2 separate regions of the Homo sapiens genome follow, and region 2 is linked to region 1. The links come from fine-mapping of genetic effects on gene expression. Tissue or cell type: whole blood. Region 1 holds a variant in brackets; the other region holds the start of a gene. All regions are shown on one strand. Distances are between the middles of the regions.

Evidence for each region. PIP is the estimated chance that this variant, and not a neighbour inherited with it, causes the effect.
Region 2: CHORDC1 starts here. The variant in region 1 is fine-mapped to the expression of CHORDC1 in whole blood (TOPMed, PIP above 0.99).

Annotation. Positions count from the first base shown.
Region 1 is chr11:90,200,177-90,202,676 of GRCh38, reverse strand. It overlaps CHORDC1 (cysteine and histidine rich domain containing 1), which reads left to right. Exons shown (of 11, transcript NM_012124.3): 11 at 126-2,248. The coding sequence ends at 272. Among named protein-coding and RNA genes, the nearest start is that of CHORDC1, 22 kb to the left of the region's middle. The variant A/G (reference allele first, on the strand shown) is at 1,212.
Region 2 is chr11:90,221,516-90,224,372 of GRCh38, reverse strand. It overlaps CHORDC1 (cysteine and histidine rich domain containing 1), which reads left to right and starts at 1,324. Exons shown (of 11, transcript NM_012124.3): 1 at 1,324-1,482. The coding sequence starts at 1,419. It overlaps LOC124902812 (a long non-coding RNA gene), which reads right to left and starts at 1,214. Exons shown (of 2, transcript XR_007062978.1): 1 at 953-1,214.

The sequences.
Region 1 (2,500 bases):
ACTAGATATAAAAGAGGCCTTTAGAAGCTTGGATTTGGGATTATTGGCATAAGCAAGTCTGATGTTTTCCTCTGAGACTAATAAAACTACTGAGGTTTCCTGTAATTCTCTTTGATATGTTACAGGTGATTGATGTAAAGCGAAGTTATGTAACTATGACTGCAACAAAGATTGAAATCACTATGAGAAAAGCTGAACCGATGCAGTGGGCAAGCCTTGAACTGCCTGCAGCTAAAAAGCAGGAAAAACAAAAAGATGCCACAACAGATTGAGTGGGAGATGGAAGGAAGGCTATTACATTATTTCCGAATTTTTAATACTGTGTGAAGTGGTGGCTTGCTGCTGTAATCTTTTGTTTTGTTGTTGTGTTACTGAATGTGGCATTTCAGGGTTAACATTAGGTTCTTAAAAGCCAAAGTCAGTTTGTCTTTTTGTGCCTCTCATCTTTCTTTTGTGTTATGTAAGATTGATTATTCATTTCTCCCTACTGGTAGGAACCATAGTTGTGTCCTATACTTGAAGAGGCTGGAAAGTAGCCCATAACCATAATTGCAGTATTTCTTTGTATTTCTCTGTTAAGCAAAGAAATATTAAGGAACATTTTTTTTATGTTTTTGTATTATTCCATAATTAGTAAAGCAAGATGAAATGTCAAATTTTAATCAGTTTTTTCATGGATTTGTGTTCTTACAGTACTTGAAAATATTTAAGGAAGAGATGAAGCTCTGCAGTTTTTTCTATGTGGGATGATTACTTTTTTAAGGAGGATTAATTCTGAGGTAGTATAGTAACTAAAGGGGAATATATGAATTGTTTAACAAATTAGAATTTGTTTACAACTACTTGAATTTTTAAATTATGTCAAAACTTACATTACTTGCCAAGCAGTATGATGTTATAGGAAACATAAATAAGATTACAGAGGTATCAATTTGGTTAAAATTCACCATTTTATAAGACTAAGCAATAATCTTAACAACCTCTTTCCTGAATATTTAAATGTGTTTGTATGGTGTTATGACTAATTGTTACTGATTTAGAGACTAAGCCCTCTTAAAACCTTTAGTTAAATATAAAAAGAAATTATATATATCTTGCCTCCCTGATGGAAAACTATATAAAATTGTAGACTTAAAAGGTTTGTGGAAATACATTAGGATATCAGAAAACTAAATATATGGAGTTGCTTTATGACTATTACATGTTAAATA[A/G]AAATAGCTTAATTGTTTTGGAGTTTTTTTTTAAAGTCATGAAGAGCTTCACAATTCTAGTGATACAATGTTGACTATATATTGTACTTTATATTAAATATAGGTAATACAGAATTAGATCGTTTGGATAGGTTTTGAGTTAGTGCAGAACTCAAGAAGAAAAATTAGGAAATATTCTGAAGGCCAGAACTCTGGAAGAACTTAGAAAGTTTGGGAATAAATTAAACTTATGTAGATTTAAAATTAAAAGGGGTTTATTTCCCAAACCCCTTGAGTCTTTTCTTTTCCTTGGTATTTATGGAATTCTTACAAAGAAAAATTTGCAGAAGTACTATTTTCGTGAATAAAACATATGTATCATTCTACTACCATTAGCAAATAACTTAGTTGTAGTTAATATAATTGTTAAAAGGTTTAGCTCTGTTACAAATAAAAACATAAAGATCTGGCAACCAGACTTTCATGATGTTACATTACCATGACAAGAAACTCTGGGCAGTAAAAGTTGGACCCACATGGAGTACATAAGCATCTGATACCTGGAGATGTATTTAAAATTTTTCAAGTTATCTTCCATGATTTAGGAACCATTTAGAGACATGAAGTCTTTATGGGTTGGGGGAAAGGTTGATAATTAGTTTGATTAAAGGTAATGATTAATATCCCTTTTTGTTCATACTTCCTTCTGAGGCTGTTTTCCCCTAAACAGTATCTTAATCTGTTACATGTAATTGAAATATTATTTGAAGCAGTGAGTTATTGTAACCTCAGATTAGTTACATTGATCAAAACATTGATTTATACACACACACACACACATACATATGTAGCTTTTATATTTAGTCTGGTTACATTAGTGACCATGGTATTTACTTTCTTCTTAAGGAGCCTTTGAATTTCTTGTCCAGATAAAAATCCGAATATTTCTCTTAGACTCATACATAAAGGGACACAGTTATCGTTAGGTAGCATATGTTTTACTATCGGTTTGTCAAAAAAGTTAATAAAAAGTGCTTATTGATTTATTTCTCTAGAAATTTGCTTTGTCTTTTTTAGCATTAAAAATAATTACTATAGCAAAGCAGTCAAAGTTAGGTATATTATATATATACTTGGTAACTAAAGATGGGAAACCTAAAATGCTATTTTTCTTTCATAGCACATTTACTAGTATAAAGGAAGTAAGATCCTAATAAACTGAGCCTTTATTTAACTTCTTTGACCTAGTTTTAGGTTTACAGAAAAGTTGTAAAAATACAACAGTTCTTTATGTCTTATATTAATCTTAA
Region 2 (2,857 bases), 22 kb before region 1:
TCTATATATCTTTAAAATCTTAAAGTTATTTAAAAAGCCTTATGCCCTTTACCCCAGAACTGTCGCTTTCCAAAAATTTTCCTAAAGGGGGAAATTCGAAATAAGAAAAACAATACACAGGTTGAGCACTGTAACTTATATATAATAAAGTTGGGGAAATTAGAGAAAGGTTAAATTACAGTGCATTTATTCAACAGAATACTCCGTCATTTGTAACAATGACTATGAAACAAAATAGAAAAATACTCACGTTAGGTTAAATGAAGAAAACATACCTATCTATGGTGGATCACAATATGAAAATTTAATACTTCTAGGTAGAAGAAGAGAAAGAGAATATGAAAAACTAAAAAGTCTTTAGGGGTAGGAGGACGTGAGCAGATCTCTAAATAACCTTGAGATCAATGGAAACAGTGTATAGATTTTTAGGTTCACTTATAAGCTGCTGATCTTATTTTAAGATCCTTCAGTATATGTTATCAAAAAGTGTTTGCTTTTCTTGCAAACGCCCATGTTTGGGAAATATGCAAGTTGAAGCCAATGCATTACTGTACTTTTTATAATGCACCTGAAGTTTTACTAGCTGTTCCAAGAGTGGTGTACTGAGTATTGATAAATCGTTTAAGTGGAGGCTCACATGAAATATTAACTATTACCCCAGGGCTTTAGAGCAACTGTGATCAATTCTGGCACAGCATCAGATCCATAATTTTCTTTGCTACTCTGATTTCTACGTTTTTTGTATTTTCAAAGTAATGTGACCGCAACTGTTAAGTTATTAAAATTGCTCCTGAGATGAGGGCACTCGAGACACAAACACACGGAGAGGTTCGTCCGCTATTCCTCTCATTTACTAAGCTCACACGTCTACCCTGAGGATTTGGAAACACTGTATGATTCTGCACTTACTGTGCACTTATCCCTTAGTGCTAAGGGGTAAACAGATACCCACCGGGCTGTCTAAGGCGCAGCCTCAAGGCAAGGAAGAAGGGTGCTGGGTCGCAGGGGATGAGAGGGCGGGGCGGCCACTTTGCTGCAGGAGATACCCAAAGCCAGTTAGCACTGAGGAAGTCAGAAGAGAATTGTCAGTCTCTCGGACACCTTCATTTTCTGCCCCGGAAATTTCTCCTCCGCTGTTGTCTGGGCTCCACTTCCGACCCCCAGTTGCTACCAGCTGTAGTCCGACCTATCGTGGCCCGGGCTAGTGCCAGCCTCCCGCCGCTACCTCCGCCTCGTCCCTTCTCCTCTGCGCCTGCGCGACCGGAAAATTCGCGAAGGTTCCTGAAACGCAACGGATCGTTTCCGGAAGCCGGTAGCCGCCTCAGTCGTCAGACCGGTGCTAGCGACACGGGAGTGGCAAACGCATCCTCTTGCCGTTCCCGGTGTTTGGGCCTTGCCTGTGACGGTGGGAAAAGAAAATGGCCTTGCTGTGCTACAACCGGGGCTGCGGTCAGCGCTTCGATCCTGAGACCAATTCCGACGGTAAGAGGAACGCGCCGCCAGCCCTCCCTCCCCTCCACCTCATCAGCAGGGGAGGCCCTTTGGGCCGGAGGGTGTCCGCGGATCTCCTGCAGCCGTCCTCGCGCGGCCCCAGGTCCATGCCCCTCCTGGGCCTCCCTTGGCTGCCCGCGCAGCCCGCCGGCCGCCCCTCTGTTGCGCCGCGTTCCCTTGGCGAGCGCCCGGCCCCGGCGCCTGACTGTCCTCTGCCACTGCGGAGAGAGACGCTCCCATGGATCCACGTGTTTCCCCCGTCGTCCCCGCACTCCTTTTAAGTCGCCTGGAATTTAGAACGAACACGTTTCTCCTCTGGCCCTCCAGTCTCTGGGGAAGCAAAAATTAACGAGGTACTGGTGAGCTTGCTTTGTAGTTCCCGAAGTAGTGATGGCTGTGATTGCCTGCGCGAGAGGGAGAGGTGGCCGGGATGAGCAGCGGGTTGTCCTAGCATGTAAGCTCTGCCTTGTAGAAGTTTGTGTTCAGTCGATCCGCTGTTACAAACCTCTTACAAGTGTTCTTGGTAAGGGACATTACTCTGTATCTTCACGCTGTTTTGATAGGTTCATCCTGGTGGTACGTTAGTTATCTTTTTATTACTAGCGGCATTTGTTGCTTGTTCTTCTTGTGGCCTCCACGTTTTACTACCATGCCTACTCCCGTATAAAATGAGTGAATGTCATCTACAGCACCTAGATGTCGAGTTAAGGATCCAAAGCGAAAATGACTATTAGGTGAAGGACGGGAAATGATCAGTGAATTGAAATTTTGATTGACAAAGAAGTGAGATGATTCCTTGCGTATCGTGAGAAGTGACAACACGTTTTCAGATTGAACTAGCATTTAGTTTATATTTTCTGCATGCCAGCCATTATTGCTTTATCTTATTTAATCTTCATAACCACCCTGGGACGCATGTAATGTTAATTAGACCCATTTGATAGAGAAGCTCAGTTCAATGAGGTTGTATTAATAACATCCTTCATTATTGTGGAGGAGATGAAAACTGATGCCTTTTGAACTCTTCACCTCTGAGATGTTTGAAATACTTATTTTTGGCACACAGGTAAATTGATAGCGTTATTTAAAATAAGACCATTGATACAGAGTTTTAAGGAAAAGGAAAATCCAACCTATGCAATACTCAAGTTACCGCCACTGACATTTTTATGATGCAAATATGATGCTACTCATGAGGAAAATTGTGAGATTTCAGTCGATGACAAAATCGAGAAACGATTTTAAAGCCCTTTGGTGTTGGCAGCCTATGTAAAACATTAATTGCACTTATGTCTGCAGATATTCTACTTTAATATAGAATACAGGGGAAAGACTGACGCTTTGCTTATGAGACAATAAAGTTCAG